Regions from separate parts of the Homo sapiens genome. Here region 2 is linked to region 1. Evidence: fine-mapped expression QTL. A gene starts in region 1. The other region holds a variant in brackets. All regions are shown on one strand. Distances are from middle to middle. Region 1 holds the start of CILP (cartilage intermediate layer protein). Region 2 holds the start of RNU5A-1 (RNA, U5A small nuclear 1).

Region 1 (16,920 bases):
CAGCAGTGAGCTATGATCGCACCACTTGTACTCCAGCCTGGACAATAAAGCAAGACCCTGTCTCTAAAAGCAAAAACAAAAACATAGAAGAAAAAGCCTTTGCAACTGTGGATTTGGCAAGGATTTCTTAGATGCAACACCAAAAACACAATCCATAAAATAAAAAATTGATCAATTAGAAAAGATAAGCCATAGACTGGGAAAAAATATTTTCAAAACATATATCTGATAAAGGAATTGTATCCAGAATCTATAAAGTACACATTAAACTCGATAATAAGAAAATAAACGGCACTTTGGAAGGCCGAAGCAGAAGGATAACTTGAGCTCAGGAGTTTGAAACCAGCCTGGGCAACATGAAATCCCATTTCTACAAAAAATAAAACCCAATTAGCAAGGTGTGGTGGCATGCACCTGTAGTCCTAGCTACTTGGGAGGCTGAGGCAGGAAGATCTCTTGAGCCTGGGAGGTGGAGGTTGCAATGAGCCATCATGATGCCATTGCACTCCAGCCTGTGCAAAAGAGCGAGACCCTGTCTCCAAAAAAGAAAAAAAAAAGAAATGACTCAATTACAAAATGGGCAAAATATCTGTACAGATACTTCATCAAAGAAGATATATGAATGGCAATTAAGATTCCTAACATCATTGGTCACTAGGGAAATGCAAATTGAAATCACAATGAGATCACACTGTACACCTATTAGAATGGCTAAAAACAAACAAATAATCAAACATAAAACCTTGACAATATCAGGTGCTGATGTGAATGCTGAGCAACTAGAACTCATACATTGCTGGTGGGAATGTAAAAGGTACCATCACTTTGGAAAACAGTTTAGCAGTTTCTTATAAAGTTGAACATACACTTACCATAGAGCCTACTTGTAGGTATTTACCCAAAAGAAATGAAAAACATGTTTACACAAAAGCCTGTGTACAAATTATAGCTAAAATGTACTTGCTAAAAACTAGAGAACTGGGCCGGGCGCGGTAGCTCACACTTGTAATCCCAGCACTTTGGGAGGCTAAGGCCGGTGGATCACCTGAGGTCAGAAATTCAAGACCAGCCTGGCCAACATGGTGAAACTCTGTCTCTTTAAAAAAAAAATACAAAAATGAGCCAGGCGTGGTGGTGCATGTAGTCTCCAGCTACTCAGAAGGTGGAGGCAGGAGAGTCACTTGAACCAGGAGGGGGAGATTGCAGGGCAGTAAGATTGTGCCACTGCACTCCAACCTAGGTGACAGAGCGAGACTCCGTCTCAAAAAAATAAGAATAAAATTTTTTTTAAAAAACTGAAGAACTGGCCAGATGCAGTGGCTCACACCTGTAATCCTAGCACTTTGGGAAGCCAAGGAGACGGATCACCTGAGGTGAGGAGTTCGAGACCAGCCTGGCCAACATGGCGAAACCCTGTCTCTACTAAAAACACAAAAAAATTAGCCAGGCGTGGTGGTGGGAGCCTGTAATCCCAGCTACGTGGGAAGCTGAGGGAGGAGAATCACCTAAACCCGGAGGCGGAGGTGGCAGTGAACTGAGATCGCACCACTGCACTCCAGCCTGGGCAACAGAGCGAGACCTCATCTCAAAAAAAACAAACAAAAAACAAAAAACTAAACAAAACAAAACAAAAAGCTGAAGAACTGTAGACAATCTACATGTCCTTCATCTGGGAAATGAAGAAACAAATTGTGCTACGTACATGCAATGAATACTACTCAGCAGTAAAAAGGAATGAACGGTTGATACACACAACACCATGGACGATTATACTAAATGAAAGAAACCAAATTCAAAAGGCTCCTACCATATGCCTCCATTTATATGACATTCTCAAAAAGGCAAAACCACAGTGAAAGAAAGATTTGTGGTTGTCAGTAATTGGGGATGGGGAGAAGGGCTGACTACAAAGGAAACTTCTGAGGTTTTGGAAATATTTTTTATCTTAATTGTGATGGTGTTACATGATTATATTTGTCAAAAATCACAGAAGTGTAGATCCAAAAGACTGAATTTTACAATATAAAAATTTCAACTTTTAAAAATTGGGGGTGGGATTCAAATTCCTTCTCCCTTTTGTTTGTCTTCCTTGTCACTGCCCAACATCCTGCCCTTGAAGCTCTTGTTCTCCTAGAGAAAACATTGCCCAGATTCGGCCACACTGAAGACTGCCTTGCTTCTGAGGAAAAAAGGGAAACCCACTAAGAATGGTCTGCAGGGCCACGTGTCTGTCTCTGTCCCACCCTCTGTCCCACGCCATCTGTGTAGGCCCAGTTGCCAAGGGCGACCCAGCCTTTCTAACCTCCATTTCACCTTCCCTGGGCTAGAGTCCTGGTGGTGACCTGGGCAGGGACCAAACCCTTACGGCCCAGGTGCTATATGGGCGAAGATTTTGCTTGGAAAGAGGGCGGCTCCTCCCACTCAACTTCTCACAGCTGTGTTTTCTAACCAATAAAATACCCACGTGTCCGGAGAACATATAGCCAGAGAGGGCATCTACCCAGCATCCACCTCACTTCATCCCCTACCAAGGCCACCCCTGTCACTGCTGCAGGCTTTTCTGGGCTGCCAGCATCTTGGCCAGAGCTGAAGCCACACCACACCCAGAGCCATCTGGGACCTCTCAAGAGAGTCATGAAGAGGCCTCGGGTCATGGGAAGGAGAGCAGCAGAGTCTGGTGGGTGCATGGGTGAGCTTATGCCCTAGAACACCCAGGGCATACCCATGGTGAGTGTGAATAGCCAGGGGAGGGTGAACACTCTTGAGATAACACCTGGGTGAATGTGCACCCCCTAATCCTATACAAAATTGTGAATGTGGATGTTCATGGGAAATACAAGGGGGATACAGTGGTATGAACACTATGACGTGCACATATAGAGTAGGAACTCAGCTGGTTCATGCAGTGAACACTACAATGTCACTGAATGAGAGCAAACTATGAAAGTGTGGTGAAGACGCTATGGACTGTGAACATACTATGGTAAATTTGTTGAATGTCATGGTGACATTGCATGAATTCTGTAGTCAGTGGTGAAAACACGGGCCTCTAGGGTGTGTGTGAACACACTGTGATAAGCATGGTGGACGCTATAGATGCTGTGTGTGAACATAAGGCCCTGACTGGGCTGAATCCATCATAGGAACACTGAGGTGACCCTGCTTTAAGCTTGAGAAGCATTCTGGGGTGACCACAGTGAGCGTGTTATGCAGAGGGTGGAGAGCTCTACTGAGCACGTTTTGGAGTATCTGCTGTGATCATAGCCCATTCTCTGGGAATCTTCTCCCACCTATGGCCGCTGAGTAAGCACATGCTTACAAGACTAGGTGCTGATCAGTACGCTGCAGTATTCACAGCAACCAGTGTGGCATGTGCAGTGCTGAAGGTTTCTTTCTTTTTCTCCTATTTCCTAAGTTGGAGTTGTTATTATGGTTGCTTGGTTTTGCTCAACTGTTCTGGAGTGTGTTGCTATGGTTACAAGATGGCAGGGGTTACATAGGTGGGTTTGGAACGGAACAAATGATGGGTAAACTCTGAGGTTGACAGCTATTAAAGTGGTTTTTTCATATCATGACTCTTAACCCTTTTTTTTTTTTTTGAGATGGAGTCTGGCTCTGTCACCCAGTCTGGAGTGCAGTGGCACAATCTCAGCCCACTGCAACCTCCGCCTCCTGGGTTCAAGTGATTCTCCTGCTTCAGCCTCCCAAATAGCTGGGATTATAGGTGCCCACCACCACGACTGGCTAATTAAGACTGTCTCAAAAAAAAAAAAAAAAAAAAAAAGGGCTGGGCGCAATGGCTCACACCTGTAATCCCAGCACTTTGGGAGGCCAAGGCGGGCAGATCACCTGAGGTCAGGAGTTCCAGACCAGCCTGACCAACATGTAGAAACCCCGTCTCTACTAAAAATACAAAATTAGCCAGGTGTGGTGGCGCATGCCTGTAATCCCAGCTACTCGGGAGACTGAGGCAGGAGAATTGTTTGAACCCGGGAGGCAGAGGTAGTCATGAGCTGAGATTGTGCCATTGCACTCCGGCCTGGGCAACAAGAGAGAAACTCCATCTCAAAAAAAAAAAAAAAAGTAGACCTTATCTTATTGGTTACAAGTAAGTCATGAGGCCAGCTCAGATTCAAGGGGAGGAAAATTAGATTCTATCTCCTGATGGTGGATTAGTGTAGTTACATTGTATGAGAACATAAGGAAGGGGAAATACCATTGCAGCCATCTTTGGAAAATACAGATTGCTACAGCCTCCTTGAGAATAAAGCCATCCAGAGGAAGCAATTGAGATATGGAAAAAGAAAAGTTCTAATGATGTTGTCTGAGTACCTAGATCCAACTTTTACCAAGATTTCCATCATCAGAACCATCAGATTCTTTTTCTGCTTAAACCATTTTGAGGCCGGGCGTGGTGAATCATGCCTGTAATCCCAGCATTTTGGGAGGCCAAGGCAGACGGATCACCTGAGGTCAGGAGTTCGAGACCAGCCTGGCCAACATGGCGAAACTGAGTCTCTACTAAAAATACAAAAATTAGCCAGGCGTGGTGGCACTCACCTATAATCCCAGCTACTTGGGAGGCTGAGGCAGGAAACTCACTTGAACCCTGGAGGTGGAGGTTGCAGTGAGCCAAGATCATGCTACTGCACTCCAGCCTGGGCAACAGAGTGAGACTCTGTCTCAAAAAAAAAAAAAAAAAAAAAAAAAAAATTTTGAGTTGTGCTTTATTACTTGCAACTGAAAGAGCTTTTACTCTTAGTGTATCAGTTATCTATTGCAGCATAACAAACCACTCCAAAGCTCTGTGGCTTAAAACAATGATTTATTATTTCTCATGATTCTGTGGGTTGGCTGTACAGAATCAAGGTCCAGACCATTCCTCTGTTGGTCTCATCTGGACTTTCTCAGGCAACTGCATGTGTGGAAAGTTCAAGATGGCCTCATTCACCTGTCTGGCCATTGGCTCAGGGTCTCAGTTCTTATCCATGTGGTCTCTCATCCTCCAGTAGGATAGACTGACTTCCTTAGATGGTAGACAATGTTCCAAGAGAGCGATGGTGGAAACTGTAAGCTCTCTTGAGGCCTAAACTCCAGAACTTATGCAACATCACTTCTGTTCTATTCCTTTATTCAAAGCAAGTCACAAAGTCAGTCCAGGTCAAAGGAATGAATAAATAGGCTCCACCTCATAATGGGAGAGTTGCAAAGAATGTGTGGCCATATTTAATCCACCACAATGTGGTAGATAGCTGGATTATGTTAGATGGGAACATCTTTGGAATTAGTATATATACAGGAAGCAGGGTGTGTATGCCAGGCAGGTGGGACAGACTGTTCTAGGCATGTGCCCACTGAGGAGCCTACAGTTGGGGTGTGACTTCCATGGTGGGTCCTCTGAGCTGAGGACCCTATGACAAGGTATACATTAGACCTCTGGTTCACAGGGGCAACTTGGAGCTGAAGACCTACCATAGCTGAGTGACTTCATGCCTCTTAGCCTCAGTTCATCCTCTGTAAAATGGGCATGCTGATCCCTGCCTCACAGATTGACTGTGAAACTGAAGATGAGATGATCACCACTAATGTGCCTTGTAAATGACAGAGTGTCATCTACATGTGACTGTGTATTATTATCTGAGATCTGAGGAAGAAGTACTCAAGATGGGCCTGGGTAGTTGCAGAGGGCAGGAAGGAGGACACTGAGACAGGGATTTGAAGAAGGACATTCACACTGGTGAGGGAGAAGGGCCGTATTTCAAGATGGGAAGCTGGAGAATAAAATTATAAAGGCACAGAGGTAGAACAATGACAGAGGGTACCCAGGAGAGGGAGGAGAGCAACTTGGTCAGAGGGTGAGCCCCCTCTACCACCCTGGACTCTGGGTTTCTGTGTTCCCAGGCAGTGGGGCAGCAGCCACTGATGGTCACTCAGAACTACAGCCAAGGCTTCCATTCTTCAAGGTTTATCAGCTGCTTATCCCCCCACAGGCCTCCAAGGCCTCCTCCAGCCACAGGGGTTGACGACAGAGGTGGTGGGCAGGTGGTCAGAGAGTCAGATAGAGCACCCTCCTCCTGAGCCACCAGGATCAGGTCAGACCCCTCCCAGTGTTCCCAAGCTCCTTTCCCCACTGCAGGGTGCAGGGTGTGGACCCCTGGCTATAGGCTTGGGTTACAGGTGGCCTAGCTAAGCTGGGTTCCAAGTCCCTTCATCCCCTGGGCAGGGATGGGGTGATTGATGGGTTTCCAGCATGTTCCAGGCAGAAGCTTGGAGTGGCTGCAGAGTAGCCTGGCTTGCAGAAGCCCCAGATGGCCACTCGTGGCTGAGGCTGACCCACCCAGGCCAGGCCTTGGACAGTCTAGACCTACGGCCACCTCCAAAGCCCTCTCTATTCTGGGGTCCTGGTTGAGGACAGCAATAGCTTCCCCCCCAAAGGAGTCCTGGGAAGAGAGAGTGAGGGCAGGCTCAGATTTCCCCAGTCTAGCCCTGTGCAGCTCACACAGCTCATTCCTACTTGGAGACAGGAAAGGACTCTGATGGGAGTATGGGAGGAGGCAAGATATGAGACAGGTGGACGGAAATGGCATGGTGGAATTGGAACGCAGCCCTCAACCCTGTACTTACCATATTAACACGCACTGGCCACTTGGGGCTAGGTAAGTGAGGGCCTCAGTGTGAGTGCTGGGCTGAATGAGGAGACCCAGGCAGGAATCCTGGCCTAAAACACTCCACTTTGCCCAATCCTCACCCATAGGGTACCCTGCCTCCCACTACAGAAAGAGATGGAGGTGACTGGGAGGCTGGGGAGGCGTCTCTTACCCACCCTGGCATTCCACAGAATGAAGGCCTTGGAGAGCAGCTGATTACCCTGACCTTGCCCTCTGGTTTACCTCCCACTACCTTCCTTTCCTGTGTATCTCTCTTGCTGTCCTTATCCAGCCTTGGTGGTCATATCTGCTTCTCTGGACTTCCTCCTGACCTTGACTCCACACTGGCTCCTCTGACTTCTGCCAGACACGTAGGAGCAGTCGTTCCCTCCACTCTCTCCTCCCAGCTCTGTTTGCTGTCAGTACAGATGGTCCCCAACTTAGGATGATTCAAGTTACAATTTTCCGACTTTATGATGTGCAAATGTGACACAAATTCAGTAGAAACTGTACTTTCCTGTACAACCATTGTGTTTTTCACTTTCAGTACAGTATTCAATGTATCACATGAGATAATCAATACTTTATGGTAAAATAGGCTTTTTGTTAGATGGTTTCGTACAACTGTAGGCTACTGTAGGCTAATGTAAGTGTTCTGAACATATTTAAGGTAGGCTAGGCTAAGTTCTGATGTTCAGTAGGTTAGGTGCATTAAGCGTATTTTTTTTACTTATGATATTTTCAACTTACAGTGGGTTTATTGGGACATTACTATAAGCCAAAGAGCATCTGTATATCTCAAACCTTGCAATCTCAGAGCTGGCAGGGGCCTGCAAACTCACTCAGTCCATCTCCCGTTGCACACCTGAGGCCCAGGGTTACTTGGGTTCTTGCTAGTTCACGGTCGCATATCAGAATCAGAAACAGCCAGGACTAGGCTTCTGAATTCCAAATTTCAATTTTTCTCCTGTCCTTTGATCTGGGGATTGTGGCTCAGCCTGTCTGTCTGTCTATTCCTTAGGCCATCAGATTTCACATGGGGTTCACTCAGTTCAGACGTCTGCAGTCAAAGCCATGGCTGAAACTGAGTCATGGCTTGGCTCTGACAAGTTGGACCAGACTAGGGCCAACTACAGGGCTTATGAACCAAGGGCTGGTGGCCAGGAGGGAGACGGGGCTCCAGGAGATAAAGCAAATCAGATCTATGCCCCAGGTCTACTTGGGAACCATGCTGCTCAACATCCTTTCTCCACCCCCACTCTCTTCCCCAGCAGATTTTTTTTTTTTTTTTTTTAGACCAAGTCTCACTCTGTCACCCAGGCTGGAGTGCAGTGGCACGATCTCAACTCACTGCATCCTCTGCCTCCTGGGTTCAAGCCACTCTCCTGCCTCAGTCTCCCAAGTAGCTGGGATTACAGGCACACTCCACCATGCCTGGCTAGTTTTTCTATTTTTAGTAGAGATGGGTTTCACTATGTTGACCAGGCTGGTCTTGAACTCCTGACCTCAAGTGATCCACCCGCCCCTGTCTCCCACAGTGTTGGGATTACAGGCGTGAGCCACTCCACCCAGCCTCCCAGTATATCTTGTCAAAGGCAATGCTCAGAAAAAACAGCTCTTACGCACACATACACACACACACACAGAAAGACACATACACACAGGAAAAGGCATAAACACACACACACAGAACTCTCTGGCATGTGGGTATGCACTGTTGTACTACGGGATCATTTCCACGTGAGGCTCTTTCCTCTGAGTGCAAGGATACATCTCTTTTCTTGTGCCTTCCCAGTGCCCAGTCTAGAGCCTGGGAATAAGAGCTCGGTAAAGGTATGTGGAGAGAGTGAGCTGACCCTGGCGTGGATGGCCACAGGACCAGGCCTCCATCTCCAGTTGCTGGCATGAGGCAGGAAGCCCAGCCCAGGCTAGATGAGCCTGCTACATGGGGCAGGACCTGGGAAGCTCCCACTGTGGTCCTTAGTACACTCGCTCTTCATCTTCTTCCTTCAACTGGGGCTCTATCACTGTGACCAGTCAATCTCAAAATGTGATCCATGAACCAACAGCATCAATCTCATCTGGGAACTTGTTAGAATGCAAAGTCTCAGGCCCCACTGAATCAGAAACTCTGGGTGTGGGGTCCAGAAATCTGCTTTAACCGCCCTCCAGGTGATTCTAACACATGCTAAAATTAGAGAACCAGTGTCTGTGCAAACAGATAACCTCATGCTGGGGCCAGGGGGCCGGGAGTGGGGGTGTGAAGCCCCAGAGCACATGCAGCTGCATACGCCCCCTATGGGTAACACTGGCTGTTCACATGCTGGTGGATGCCTATACCTGAAGGCAGACACGTACTCACACGCATGCACATATATGAGCATCAGGGTCTCAGAAGAGTCCACATGCTGGAGCTCTGGGGTCTCAGTGGGTACCAGCAGGCACTCAGATGGAAGTGGGGGGGAGAAAGGAAGAACTGTTCTCACCAGCTGACAACCTATGCCCCACAATTCTTTTGTCCCTTATCCCTTCTGAGGTTCCCTGAGTGTTCCCTCAGAAGCCAGAGAAGCTGAGTAGTTGCCCAACTCAGACCAGACACACCCAGCTGAGAGGCCAAGGTGGCCTGTGTGCCTAAGAGTGTTTGGAGTATGTGCTAAGACCAGCAAAGTCTTTTCTCTGTGTGGGCGAGCCAGGGCCAGGGGAATGTGGGGCATCAGCAAGCTAGGCTTAGGCAAGAGCACACCATCCCCCGGGCCATGAAATGCTGCCCAGATCTAGAATTCCCCGTGGCCCCTTCCCAGGGCTGTTTCTAGTGCCCAGCCCACCTCCTGACCCCTCTCTCTGCTCTGGACTGTGATGCCCCAGGCCACTGCCCACCTGGCCCATCACCAGGTCCTGCGGCATCTCCTCCTTAGGATCTGGACATAAAATCCTGGCCTCTGTGAACTGCAAGGGGACATGGGGAGGGGAGAGGGAGGCTCATGCTCAGATCTGGTTTCGCTGCTGCTTCCTCTGGCTGGCTGCCACAGGCTGAGCCACCAGCTGTGCTATATAAGGCCGGCACTGGACTGCTGGAGAGGCGAAGGCTTGGACCCCCAGCTGAGGAGTCCTGCTCAAGACACGGTGAGCTCCACTCCTATTCCCCTCACCCCATCCCTGCACCCCACTGCTGGACTCAACTGCTCCTGCCCTCCCCTGACTACTCCATTCCCTTCTCCCCACTTCCCCCCACTTTTTGCTGCCTGATCCTTCATCTCCCACAGAGAAGACTCCCTTTCTGCTTTGGGAATCTGCTTTCCCCCATTGGCCCAAAGTCCTCTCCCTCCCCCACCTGAGGACAGGAACCCCCAGATGGTCCCACTTAGGGTTTCCATACCTCTGGGTGCCCTGCTTTATTCCCTGCGGTCAGCCAGTCTGCTTTGTCCAAGTGTTCTGAGGAGCGTGGGATGGCAAGCCTAACCATCAGGGCATATGCTGAGGAAACGGCGGAGATGCTGAGAAACCTCTGTGGGCTGCCAGATGGGAAATGGTTTTTCCACAAGGTGTCTCAGGCCACCTCAGCCTCCAGACATCCCTGGAGCAGGCTCAGGCTCAGGCTGAATGCAGTGCAGGCCAGCAGACTGCTCAGCTCCCTGCTTGGAGCCCAGAGGGATACACACAATGTGGAGGCCTTTGGGACGTCCTGGTGACTCTGCTCCCTCATCCGAGAAACAGGTAGTGGTGGGGCCAGTGGTTTTAGAGCTAGAAGGTCTGCAGCATGGGACTGGTTTTTTCTTCCCCTGGAATATCCCAGTGTTTTCAGATATGTGTATTTTTTAGAGAGGAGGACTCTTCCCTTTCCTACCACACCCTGGACTTAGGATGTTGAAGGGAACCACTTTTGAATCCCCAGAAACGAGTCAGATTCTGGGTTGGCCGGAGCTCTGGGGAGACATAAAAATGTTCTGCTCAGCTGCGGCCTGGGCCACGCACGCCCCATAGTTCCTTGCCCTTGTCCCAGGCCTGCTTTCCTCTCCTGACCCTTGCAGTTCCTCACCCACGCTCAGCAGTTACTGGGGAGCCCTGGCCTCTCACAATGCATCCCCTCTGCTTTCCGTCAGCTGGCTCCTGGCTGTGTAACTCCCAGTCAGGCCCCAAACAAAAAGGCCAGAAATGTGTTCCAGCTGCAGCCCGTGCACATCTGGGAATGTGTTCATGGAGGTGGTATGTCCGAGGCATCTGCACCCTCCAGCCAGCCTGCCTTATGAGAGGCCACTGGAGTCGGAGCCAAGTCTTCACGGCCTTAATATGTACCCGCCTGTGTGAGAGTGTGAACTCCATCAAAGGATGGCAAAACAAATGCCCCTCAGGCCTGGGTTTTAGAAGTGACGAGTCACCAAGAGGCTGCTGGGGGTGAGCCCTGGACTCTCCTCATTGCAAGGAACCTCCTCGCCCCTGCTTGTCCTTGTGCCTCATCTCCATGTGGGGCCCTGGAGCCTACCCCCAGGGATGGAACCTAGTCTGCCTCATTTGAACTCAGATTCTGAGCCTCTGCACCTCCCAAGCTACCTGGTTTCACAACTCAGGCAGATATCACTTTCATATCATTCTGTCCACCTTTCCCTCCTTGACAGGTCAAGAAATATTTCTGCTTGAGCCATAAGCGGTGATTCAGAAATATGAAACCTGACAAGCTTTGTTTCTTTACAGGTCACTGGATCTGAGAAACTTCCCAGGGGACCGCATTCCAGAGTCAGTGACTCTGTGAAGCACCCACATCTACCTCTTGCCACGTTCCCACGGGCTTGGGGGAAAGATGGTGGGGACCAAGGCCTGGGTGTTCTCCTTCCTGGTCCTGGAAGTCACATCTGTGTTGGGTATAGGCTAAGTATCTGCTGGCTCCCAAATCTTCCACTTGCCACAGTGAGGTTGTGTCTGGTCTGGGACTGAACTATGCATCTGCCTTAAGACACAGCAAGGCCTTAAGACCTGAGGCCACTTTATGGATTTATTCGTAATTTATACCCTGTTTGTTTTTCTCCAAAACTTGAGATTGTTCCCATTATTAAAACTCACAAAACAGAACCTTTATATGAGAAGAGGGATGAGCAGTCATTCAGAGGGAGGAAAAAAAGATAAGAGGGTTATTTTTAGCCCTTGAGTACCAAATTGAGCTCCGAGCTTCCTGGCAGCCAAAGTAATAGGGAATCACAGGGCATCAGTGAGATCTCAGAAGCAGGTTTGGGGTTTGGTCTGTTTTTAGTTTTATGAAGATTCTTTTGGCCCAAAGCTCAATTTCATTTAGACCCTGCAGCCAAATTTCACAGACACACCAGAACCCCTTCCGGTCTCCTTGCCCTCTGACTGCATCCTCTGGTGATACTGAGCTCTGGAAGGAACTCGTAGAAAGAATTTGTCTGGTGGAACAGAAGACTTCCCAAGGCATCTAAGCGTCAGCCCTCCCCTGCACACTCTCTCCCACCTCCTCCCCTTCCTCTCCTGATTTCTAAGCACATACTCAGGTAAAGCAAAAGCAAAAAAAAAAAAAAAAAAAAAAAAGCTCAAAACCCTCCTTTAAAGCTGTATGCCTTGCAGGATTTGTGGCTACAAATGCAGGAACAAAGGCTGTCTCAGCCTGGAGCCAACCCCTGTATGTGCCTGCCTCCTGCCTTGCTCTTTCCACCCTGACAGCTGCTGCTTGTGAAGATGATTAACATTCAACCATCTGAGGGGAAATCAGATTAGGTTGATTAAAAGAGCTCCTATCACCCCAATTAAGCAGCATAGAGAATTCTGATTTGGCTCCTGGAGTAAGCGTTAATTGCCTGTCAAAGCTTCTGCAGCCCTCTGCTCCGCATTCTCCTTCCCATTCTGGAGACCCCAACCCAGCCTCAGGTAGGGTACAGCTGGAACTGCTTGTGGCCCGAGGACCCTGTACCCATCCTCAGGCAGTCCCTGCCAGCCTCGTATGGAAAATTGAGGACCGCTGCCCCAATTAGGCCATAGGAGTCTTTATGGGAGAGTGGACTCCCAAGGGAAAGTAAATGGCCATCTATTCTGGCGTTGAGCTAAAAGAAGTTGCTAGCACTTATTCAGTATGCGTTATGTGCTAGGTGTTGTTCTAAGTGGATTTTATGAATGAGCTTATTTAATCCCCACAATACTCTAAGGCAGGAACTATCATTATCCTTATTTTATGATGAAAGAACATGGGGTCAGCTGGGTTAAGTAACTTGCCCAAAGTCACACAGTTAGAAACTGGCAGAGTCTCAGGAGCCCACACTGTCAATCTGCATATACTTCAGAGGCTTTTACGTTCTAGCTCATGGAATCCTCATGCCAACTGAATCACCCTGCGAGATGGGAATAAATATCTCCATTTTACACATGAGGAAAACAAAGCTCCATTTTGCCAAGAAGGTTTGGTGCAGACACCAAAGCAGGAGTCCCAGGCCACTGGCTGCTCAGGAGCATCTGATAATCCATTTCTAGAACAAGAGTGAAAAGGGAGATACCATTCACTGAGTGTGCACTACAAGCCAGGTCTCTTTACATTCATTATCACCTGAATAATGCACCAGGACCCTAGGATGCAGCAATTATTAGTGCATTCCTATTTTATGGGGAAACAGGCTCAGAGGAGTAAAGCTTTTCTGAGATTGCACAGCAATAAGTAGCAGAGTGGGGTTTGAACCCATGCCTGGTGCTCATGCTCCATTCACCACCTCACACTGTTTCCCTGCATCTTGAGGAATGCTGTAACTTCCAGTCCTGGCCTCTCACTTAGCTTCTCCTTCTGGCCCTCAGGGAGACAGACGATGCTCACCCAGTCAGTAAGAAGAGTCCAGCCTGGGAAGAAGAACCCCAGCATCTTTGCCAAGCCTGCCGACACCCTGGAGAGTGAGTTGTGGCTGAAGCAGGGAGGGGCTGGAGGGGCAGCCTTTAACGAGCTTCCGAAGTGGATCTCTGAAGCCAGGGCATGATGTCAGGGTCCCATGGAAACCCACTTTTACAAGCATTTGGCCTCCATCTCTGTCCAGCCAAGGAACTTAGTATATAAGACAGCTCAGAATCAGGAATCTGCCTGATACCTTTCAGGAATGCTGTGGAGCTTGCTGGGGCCAGAGCACAGGCTGGTGGGAAGGGAGTGGGGAGATGAGTATGGAGAGATGGCTGGGGACAGCTCACCAGCACCCTGAATGCCTAGCTAGACGATCTTAAAGCTGGAGGTGATGTGGCCCGAGCCACATGAAGAAAGCTCACCCTGACTGCAGGGTCAGGGATGGGTGTGAGTGGCATTGAGGAGGAGCCTTGATGTGGAAAGTGACTGACATGGTTCAGTCAGGCTGATGAGAGCTTGAATGGAGGCCTCAGCAGTGGCAGGTGTAAGAGGGGATTGGAGAGATACTGGAGAGACAAATGTGATAGGGCCTGAGGCCAGCTGGGGGTGGGTGAGAGGGAAAGGAGAACTGGAGCGCACCAGGATCACGGCTCCTCCGCAATTTGGCTATGTCTCTCAGGCCCTGGTGAGTGGACAACATGGTTCAACATCGACTACCCAGGCGGGAAGGGCGACTATGAGCGGCTGGACGCCATTCGCTTCTACTATGGGGACCGTGTATGTGCCCGTCCCCTGCGGCTAGAGGCTCGGACCACTGACTGGACACCTGCGGGCAGCACTGGCCAGGTGGTCCATGGTAGTCCCCGTGAGGGTTTCTGGTGCCTCAACAGGGAGCAGCGGCCTGGCCAGAACTGCTCTAATTACACCGTACGCTTCCTCTGCCCACCAGGTAAGCCAGAACGCCCCCACCCCCACCCGCTACTTCCCACTGGCCTCTACTCAGGGAGAGGGAGAACCTGCCTCTGGCCACCAGAACTCTCAGCATCACACACATGCGTATGCTTGGACTCTGTAATAATAACAAGTAGTGACACACATGCATATGCTTGGACTCTGTAATAATAACAAGTAGTGTCATTAATGCCAGAACTTTTCCAATAGTGTTTTGTGTTTATGGGTACTCTCTATTCAACCTATTTTATTATGTTTGAGTGGTACCATGGTGAAGACCACAGGCTCTGAAGTGGGGCTGCTTGGGTTTGAATTCTGAGCCCGCAATATGATGTGTCCCCTAGACAAATTTTCTGAAATTCTCTTAGTTTCAGGTTTCTCATATGTGACACCTGGGTAATAGTAAGTCTTCATAGGGGTTTTTAATGAGGATTAAATGATATGAATGCAGAGGCTTAACCCAGGTAAATGCTCACTGAGTGTTAGTTTCTATTCTTGTTCCTATGTGCCAGATACTGTGCTAGTTATCCACTTTATTCAACCTTTACAACTGACCTTTGAGAGATCTCCATCTTGACAAGTTACACGAGGTTCAGAGAAGCTAGGTAACTTCTCACGATTCCATAGCTGATAAGGCAGAGCTGGGGTTTGAACCATGTCCGTGTTTGCAGAGTCTATGCATTTATATCCCCTCCCACCATGGATAATACAGATGTTATGGGGAGCAGGCCTGCTCCCTTCTTGGATGGGGATCTTCTCCCTTAGGGTTCCACAAGATCCCCCAGGCCCAGACGCCAGTGGTGGTCATCTGGGATGGGAGCTCAGGCTGATCTGAGCAAGGTGTGAAGACCCCATTCTTGTACACAGGCCTCAGGCCAGAGGTGAGGAAGGTGGGCAGAAATGGGCTTCTTGTCCAAGTCATTGCATGTTGCAGGCCCCGACTTCCCAGGGGTCCCTGATTCCCAGGGAGTCCTTCCATAGGAGCATGTGGCCGTTTCCACACTGGTGAAGAAGAAAGACAGTGCTATCCCTGCACATCCTAGGACAGCATATCAAAGTCCCAGTGCTTGGCCAACAAGCACCGCTCAGGGCCACCCCTAGCCCATATGGTGCCTCTGTGCAAATTAGAGACCTCACTTCCTCAAGAATTTTGTCTGTTGGAAAAATCACTGCAGTAAATATAAATATCAGTGACATCTACGACATAAATGGAAACCTTGTCTTTACCAGAGAAGAAACAGCCTCAGGGTCAGATTTCCTGACAGAGTTCCCTCAAGAGGGAAATCAGACCGTCTGCTGATCTCACTTTGCAGGATCCCTGCGCCGAGACACAGAGCGCATCTGGAGCCCATGGTCTCCCTGGAGCAAGTGCTCAGCTGCCTGTGGTCAGACTGGGGTCCAGACTCGCACACGCATTTGCTTGGCAGAGATGGTGTCGCTGTGCAGTGAGGCCAGCGAAGAGGGTCAGCACTGCATGGGCCAGGACTGTACAGGTACCACCCTCCCTCCTGGCACTGGGCAGGGTGTGGTGGGTGAGGCTGAAGAATGAGGAGGGAGTTAGAGGGTCAGTTTGAGACTGATGGATTCCTTCATTTACTTACTCACCACGTATTAACTGAGCATCTACTATGTGCCCTAATGAGAGATATACAGGATAATATAGGAACACAGGGCAGGGTCAATTATCATAGCCTGGGGGAATCCAGGAGAGCTTCCTAGAGGAGGTGTTTTGGGCTAAGTTGTTGTTGTTGTTGTTGTTTTGAGACAGAGTCTTGCTCCATTGCCCAGGCTGGAGTGCAATGGCGCAATCTTGGCTTACTCCAGCCTCCGCCTCCTGGGTTTAAGGGATTCTACTATCTCAGCCTCCCTAGTAGCTGGGATTACAGGTGCGTGTCACCATGCCCAGCTAATTTTTGTATTTTTTGTAGAGACAAGGTTTCACCATGTTGGCCAGGCTGGTCTCAAACTCCTGACCTCAGGTGATACACCCACCTTGGCCTCCCAAAGTCCTGGGATTACAGGTGTGAGCCACCACGCCTGGCCTTGGGATAAGTTTTAAAGGATGAGTGGGAGTTAGTCATGCAGGCTGATAAGGGAGGGTAGCAAAGGCCAAGGAGGAGAGGAAGTGATCTGTGATGTGGCTGAAGGAATGCCAGAATCCATAGAATCCCTGCTGATATGGCCCCTTGTTCCACAGCCTGTGACCTGACCTGCCCAATGGGCCAGGTGAATGCTGACTGTGATGCCTGCATGTGCCAGGACTTCATGCTTCATGGGGCTGTCTCCCTTCCCGGAGGTGCCCCAGCCTCAGGGGCTGCTATCTACCTCCTGACCAAGACGCCGAAGCTGCTGACCCAGACAGACAGTGATGGGAGATTCCGAATCCCTGGCTTGTGCCCTGATGGCAAAAGCATCCTGAAGATCACAAAGGTCAAGTTTGCCCCCATTGTACTCACAATGCCCAAGACTAGCCTGAAGGCAGCCACCATCAAGGCAGAGTTT
Region 2 (8,000 bases), 80 kb before region 1:
ACTACAGGCGCCTGCCACCACGCCCGGCTAATTTTTTTTGTATTTTTAGTAGAGACAGGGTTTCACTGTGTTAGCCAGGATGGTCTTGATCTCCTGACCTCGATGGTCTTGATTCTCCTGCCTTGATGACCAGGATTGGTCTTGATTGTCCTGCCTCGGCCTCCCAAAGTGCTGGGATTACAGGCGTGAGCCACCACGCCCGATCCTCGCGTTGTGTTTCAACCGGACAGTGCTGCAAAAAGAAAATGAACTGAATACTGTACATTACAAGTAACAAAAAACATGCATCTACCAAACAGTCTTGACTAAGAAGATCCCGGAGGAGGTACTACTTGTGTATCAACTGTCTATCACAAAAAGTTGAAAAGCATGAATATACAAGCCGCATTTCTTTGGAACATATATACACAGAAATAATTACCAATAAGGTAGGGAGAAAAGAACTAAACAGGGTTCAGTGCTTTTACCACACAGAATCTGCTAGTCACTGCTTTACAACAATATCAAAAGCACCATTGAACAGAAAAAGGAACACACAAACTTAAAAATAATTTCTATTGTTGGATTACCACATATAGCCTTGCCAAAGCAAGGCCTCAAAAAATTGGGTTAAGACTCAGAGTTGTTCCTCTCCACGGAAATCTTTAGTAAAAGGCGAAAGATTTATGCGATCTGAAGAGAAACCAGAGTATACCAGTTACTTCTGTAACTCAATTTTCGGGTAACTGCAATTCCTAGTACACTGATGGTGTCTACTAATCCCAAGGGTTACTACCTGAGAAAGTTTATACAAAAAAATTCTGCATGCAAAATTCTCATACTTAAAAATGTCAAGCAATATATAAATGTTTTTCCGAAAAAAATACTGTTTGCAGTGTATTATGGGTATGCAAATGAGACCTGAATAATCGTCTTTAGACTCCGGAAATACCTTAGCAGTCACACGGTGCTCTTGGGGCAACCTTTAGGGGGTGAAGTGGAGGCCTTGCTGCCCAGGACTTTTTTTTTTTTTTTTTTTGAGACAGGGTCTCACTCTGTCATCCAGGCTGGAGTGCAGTGGCGCGATCTCGGCTCACTGCAACCTCTACCTCGGGTTCAAGAGATTCTTCTGCCTCAGCCTCCCAACTAGGTGGGATTACAGGCGCACGACACTGTGCCCAGCTAATTGCCCAGGACTTTTAAGCCCTGTCTCTAAAATATAGAAACATCTTAAAGATTTTTAAGTATATCTCGTAAATAATGTATATAGTCTATGTGCATACATAATTCAAAAGTAATAAAACACTGATGTCTCCCATCCAGTTCAAAAAGTATATTGTTAACATCTTTGAAGCCTTCGTTGGCCCATTTCCCCTATCATACCCCTCACTCGCTATATGGGTAGTCACTATCTGGAATATGTATTAACCATTCCTTTGCACTTAAATGCCCCCCCCCCCCCCCCGCCCCAACTATTAGAAAACTCCCTCCTAGCAATACTCCCACCTCAGCCTCTCAACTAGCTGGGACCACAGGCACGCGCCACCACACCTGGCTAGTTTTTGTATTTTTCGTAGAGACGGGTTCTGGCTTTCTTGCCCAGCCTGGTCTCGAACTTCTGGCCGCAAGCGAGCCTCCTGCCTCAGCTTCCGGAGTTGCTGGATTACAGGCGTGAGACAGCCGCCAGCTCTTCTTTCACTTTCTTCACGAGATTTTGCATATATATAATATATATATTACATATTATATAAATAATATATACTATATATAATTACATAGTATATATCTATAATTATATATTACATATATATACATTATATATTATATATAGTGTATTTTAACATGTTTTCTAGCCTTCATTTAAATTTTTAAAGTTTGTTTTGTTATGGTGCTAAAATACACATGAAACTTACCGTTTTAACCATTTTTAAGTGTACAGTTCAGTGGTATTAAATATATTCACACTGTTCTGCAACCATCACTACTTTCCATTTTCAGAATTTTTTCATCATCCCAAAACCCATTAAATAATGACTCCCCATTCTCACCTGAGCCCCTGGCAACCACCATTTTACTTTCTGTCTCTATGATATTGCCTTTCTAGGTGCCTCATATAAGTGGAATCTGGAATATTTGTTCATTTGTCTCTGGTTTATTTCATTTAGCATAATATCTTTAAGGTTCATCCATGTTGTAGCATGCATCAGAATTTTATTCCTTTTTTTTTTTTTTTTTTTTTTTTGAGACAGTTTTGCTCTTGTTGCCCAGGCTGGAGTGCAATGGCGCGATTTCTGCTCACTGCAACCTCCACCTTCCAGGTTCAAGTGATTCTTCTGCCTCAATCTCCTGAGTAGCTGGGATTACAGGCATGCGCCACCACACCTGGCTAATTTTGTATTTTTAGTAGAGATGGGGTTTCACCATGTTGGTCAGGCTGGTCTCGAACTCCTGACCTCAGGTGATCTGCCAGCTTCGGCCTCCCAAAGTGCTGGGATTACAGGCGTGAGCCACCGCGCCCACCCAGAATTTTATTCCTTTTTAAGGATGAATAATATGCCATTATATGGGTACACCACATTTTGTTTACCCATTCATTTGTTGATGGACAGGTATTGTTTACACCTCTTGGGTTATTGTAAATAATGCTTCCATGCAATTATTTTTATATTTAAGTTAACAGTAAAATTGAATTTTTCTGGTATACAGATCTACGATTTCTTTTTTTTTTTTTGTCTTAAAAAAATTTTTTGTTTTTTTGAGAGGGGATCTCACTCTATCACCCAGGCTGGAATGCAGAAGTGCGATCTCAGCTTACTGCAATCTCCACCTCCTTGGCTCAAGTGATCCCACCTCAGCCTCCAGAGTAGCTGGGGCTACAGTTGGGGCCACCATGCCTGGCTAATTTTTGTATTTTTAGTAGAGACAGGGTTTCACCATGTTACCCAGGCTGGTCTAGAACTCCTGGCCTCAAAGCCATCCGACCACCTCCGCCTTCCAAAGTGCTAGGATTACGGGCTTGAGCCACTGCTTGTTTTGTTTTTAGAGACCAGGTTTCCTATGTTGCCCAGGCTGGTCTCGAAATCCTGGTCTTAAGCAATCCCACAACCTCATCCTCCAAAGTGCTGAGATTACAGGCGTGAGCCACCATAAGAGG[G/A]TCTCTGTTGCCCAGGTCTCAGCCTCCCAAGTAGCTGAGATTCCAGGTGCAAGCCACCATGTCCTGCTGCTACTTGTATTTTTTTTACAGGTGTGATCCACCACACCTGGCCAGATCTATGATTTTAAATTATTATTTTTTATTTTATCCTCATTGCATACTGAGTGCATCTATGACTTTTTAAACATGTACATAGATTTGCATAATCACTACCACAATCAAGATACACAATAGTTTCATCACTCCAAAATTTCCTCATGCTGCTCTTTGTGGTCACACCTTCCTCTACTTGTAATCCTTTACAAACACTGACCTGTCCTCCAACAATACTTTTGCCATTTCCGACATTTAAATGAAACATTCAGCACATACCCTTTGAACTGGCTTCTTGTGCTCAGCATGATGCCTTGAGATTCACTCATGTTGCATTCCTCTCTGTTCCTGTATGGCTGTACCATGATTTATTTACCCATCCACCTGTCATGTCCAGTTTTTAGTGATTGCTAACAGAGCTGCTGTAAACATTTTTGTACAGATTTTTGTCTGAGCAAGAGTTTTCACTTCTCTAAACACCTAGAAGTGGGTATTGCTAGGTCTTATGGTAGGTGGATGTTTATAAAAACTGTTTTTACAGAGTAGTTACCAGTTTATATTCCCACCATCAATGTATAAGAGTTTCAGTTACTCCATATCCTCTCCAACATGTAGAATTGTTCGTTTTATTTTTTAAATTTAAACCACTTCCACGGGTGGGGTGTGTAGTGGTATCTCTGGTTTAATTTGCATTTTCCTCATGACTAATGATGTTGAGCATCTTCCCAAGTGCTTAATTGTCATCCATGTATCTTCTTTGGTGAAGTGCCTGTTTAAGGAGCATAAAATATATAAGACATGCATAAAACATAAAGAAAAACAACTGGCCGGGCATGGTGGCTCACACCTGAAATCTCAGCACTTAGGGAGGCCAAGGTGGGAAGACTGCTTGAGGTCAGGAGTTCAAGACCAGCCTGGCCAACATGGCAAAACCCCATCTCCACTAAAAATACAAAAATTAGTCGGGTGTGGCAGAGGGCGCCAGTAATCCCAGCAACTGGGGAGGCCGAGGCATGAGAATTGCTTGAACCTGGGAAATGGAGGTTGCAGTGAGCCAAGATCACCCCACTGCAATCCTGCCTGGGCGACAGAGCGAGACTCTGTCTCAAAAAGAAAAAAAAAAGGCCGGGCACAGTGCCTAACGCTTGTAATCCCAGTACTTTGGGAGGCTGAGGCGGGCGGATCACGAGGTCAGGAGTTTGAGACCAGCCTGGCCAACACAGTGAAACCGGGTCTGTACTAAAAACACAAAAATTAGCTGGGCATGGTGGTGTGTGCTTGTAATCCCAGCTACTCGGGAGCTGAGGCAGGAGAATCGCTTGAACCCGGGAGGTGGAGGTTGCAGTGAGCTGAGATCATACCACGGCACTCCCGCCTGAGTGACAGAGCTAGACTCTGTCAAAAAAAAAAAAAAAAAAGGCAGGCAGGCGCCAGGTGCAGTGGCTCACACCTGTAACCCCAGCAGCACTTTGGGTGGCTGAGGTGTGTGGATCACGAGGTCAGGAGATTGAGACCACCCTGACCAACACAGTGAAACCGCATCTCTACTACTAATATAAAAATTAGCTGGGCGTGGTGGCACACACCTGTAGTCCCAGCTACTAGAGAGGCTGAGGCAGAATTGCTTGAACCCAGGAGGCGGAGGTCGCAGTGAGCCAAGATCGTGCCACTACTCTCCAGCCTGGTGACAGAGCGAGACTCCATCTCAAAAAAGAAAAAAACAACAGATATACAGTTGACCCTTGAACAACATGGGGGGTTAGAGTTGCCGACCCCTCTCGCAGTTGAAAATTTGCATGTAACTTTTTTTTTTTTTTGGTGGGGAGATGGGGTCTCACCGTGGTCCAAGCTGGAGTGCAATGGCTTGATCTCGGCTCACTGCAACCTCCGCCTCCTAGGCTCAAGCGATTCTCCTGCCTCAGCCTCCTGAGTAGCTGGGACTACAGGCATGTGCCACCACGCCCAGCTAATTCTTGTATTTTTAGTAAAGACGGGGTTTTGCCATTTTGGCCAGGCTGGTCTAGAACTCCTGGCCTCAAGTGATCCGCCCGCCTCGGCCTCCGAAAGTGCTGAGATTACAGGCATGTGCCACCATGCTGATGCATATAACTTTTGACTCCCCCTAAACTTAACTACAAATAGTCTACTGTTGACCGACAGCCTTACAGATAACAGTTGATTAACACATATTATGTGTGTTAAACGTATTATATACTGTATTCTTACTACAATGAGGTAGAGGAAGGAAAATGTTATTAAAGAAGAAGAGAAAATAGGCTGGGCATGGTGGCTAACACCTGTAAACCCAGCACTTTGGGAGGCCAAGGCAGAAGGACCACTTGAGGCCAGGAGTTCAACACCAGCCTGTTCAAGATTTTGTCTCTACTGAAAAAGAAAAAGAAGAAAGAAAAAAAAATTGCTGGGGATGGCATCATGCATCTATATAGTCCTAGCTACTCAGGAGGCTGAGGCACGAGAATTGCTTGAACCTGGGAGGCAGAGGTTGCAGTGAGGTCACACCACTGTACTCCAGCCTGGTGACAGAGTGAGACCTTGTCTCAAAATATATATATATATATATATTTACTATTAAAAAACCCCACTAAATAAACAAAAAGAACATATATTTACTATTCATTAAGTGGAAGTGGGTCATCGTAAAAGTCTTCCTCATTGTCTTCACGTTGGGTATGTTGAGGACAGGGAGGAGAGGTTGGTTTTACTGTCTGAGGAGTGGCAGAGGAGGAAGAGGTGGAGGTAGAAGGGAGGCAGGCATACTCGCTTTAGTTTCAGTGCCCATGTCATAGAAGGGTCCACGTTGTAAAAGCAGTCTTGAATACTAGGAACACTTCCGCCAGATTGTCTAATGTCAGTTGTTCTCCGGCACTGCGTCTTCTACATCATCTTCATCGTCTTGCACTGGTTCGAAGGCACTCATCTCCACCAAGTCATCTATTCGTTCCTCTAGTGTGACATCTAGTAGCCCTTGGATTTCTCCAAGATTCATATCTTGAACCCTTCACCCCACACACATCTCTTTTGCATATCCACAATCTCTTTCTTGATTTCCTTGACAGTCTCTGTCATAAATCTCGTGAAGTCATGCACAACATCTGCACACAATTTTTCTCCAGCATGAATTTATTGTTTCAGGTTTGATGGCCTTCACATGTTTTTCTACAACATCTTCAATGGTGTAATCCTTCCAGACGTTCATGATGTTCTCTTGGTTGAGGTCCTCTCCCATAGTGTTGACGATCCCTTCCATAGAGTACTGGGTGTAATAAGCATTAAAGATTCTTATGACCCCGTGATCTAGAGGATGAATTACAGACATCGTCCCTATTCAGAGGCAAGTAGACCACTTGCACCTTCAGTGTTGAACTCGGGGTTCCGGGTGGCCAAGAACATTGTCCAATATCAAAAGAACTTGAAAAGCTCCTGCTGGCCGGGCATGGTGGCTCACGCCTGTAATCCCAACACTTTGGGAGGTTGAGGCAGGTGGATCACTTGAGGTTGGGAGTTCGAGACCAGCTTGGCCAACATCATGAAACCCCATCTCTACTAAAAATATAAAAATTAGCGAAGCGTGGCGGCACACACCTGTAATCCCAGCTACTCGGGAGGCTGAGGCAGGATAATTGCTTGAACCTGGGAGGTGGAGGTTACAGTGAGCCAAGATCAAGATCGCACCACTGCACTCCAGCCTGGGCAACAGAGCAAGACTCCGTCTCAATAAATAAAAGGCAGCTCCTTACTGGCAAGATATAATACTTCCTGACTTCAAGGACAAAGCATTCAACCAATCCAGAGGAAGGGTTCTTCTTGTCCAGGCCTTCTTGTTGTACCAAGAGTGGCAGCTTGTGTTTATCTTTTCTCTTCAAGGCTTGGGGGTTATCAGCTTTACAGATAAGGGAAGTTCTGATAATAAACCTGACCAAATTTGCACAGAACAATAGTCAGCCTATCCCTTTCTGCCTTAAATCCTGGTGCTCGATTTTCTTCCTTACTAATAAGTGTCTTTTGTGGCATCTTCTTTCAGAATAGGGCATGTTCATCGGCATTAAAAACCTGTTCAGGTGGATATCTTTCCTGTCAGTGATTTTTTTTTTTTTTTTTTTTTTTTTTTTGGGAGATGAAATCTTACTCTGTCACCCAAGCTGGAGTGTAGTGGCATGATCTCAACTCACTGCAACCTCCGCCTCCCAGGTTCAAACAGTTCTCGGGCTTCAACCTCCCGAGTAGCTGGGGCTACAGGCACGTGCCACTATGCCTGGCTAATTTTTGTATCTTTATTAGAGACAGGGTTTAACCATAGTGGCCAGGCTGGTCTCGAACTCCTGACCTCAGGTGATTTGCCCACTTCGGCCTCCCAAAGTGCTGGGATTACAGGTGTGAGCCACGTGCCTGGTCCCCACTTTCAATAATGAATAGAATAAACAGAAGATCAACAAGGAAATCTAAGATTTGAAAACAATATAAATCAACTAGACCTAACAGACATCCATAGAACACTTGACCTAACAGCAGCAGAATATATACATTCACATGAAACATTCTCCAGGATAGGCCATATGCTAGGCAATAGACAAACCTCAATGAATTTAAAAGGACAGGAGTAAACAAAATGTGTTCTCTAAGCCAGGTGTGGTGGTGTGAGCCTGTAGTCTGAGGTACTCTGGAGGCTGAGCCGGGAGGATCATTTGAGGCCAGAAGTTCTAGGCTGCAATGTGCTATGATCATGCTTGTGAATAGCCACTGTGCTCTAGCCGAG

The links. PIP is the estimated chance that this variant, and not a neighbour inherited with it, causes the effect.
Region 2: its variant is fine-mapped to the expression of CILP in whole blood (TOPMed, PIP above 0.99).

The regions. Positions count from the first base shown.
Region 1 is chr15:65,204,278-65,221,197 of GRCh38, reverse strand. CILP (cartilage intermediate layer protein) reads left to right here and starts at 9,725. Exons shown (of 9, transcript NM_003613.4): 1 at 9,725-9,770; 2 at 11,337-11,503; 3 at 13,434-13,526; 4 at 14,147-14,416; 5 at 15,732-15,911; 6 at 16,616-16,920. The coding sequence starts at 11,443. RefSeq lists an enhancer at 8,195-9,096.
Region 2 is chr15:65,288,743-65,296,742 of GRCh38, reverse strand. It overlaps RNU5A-1 (RNA, U5A small nuclear 1), which reads right to left and starts at 692; the gene lies at 576-692. RefSeq lists an enhancer at 1-565. The variant G/A (reference allele first, on the strand shown) is at 3,134.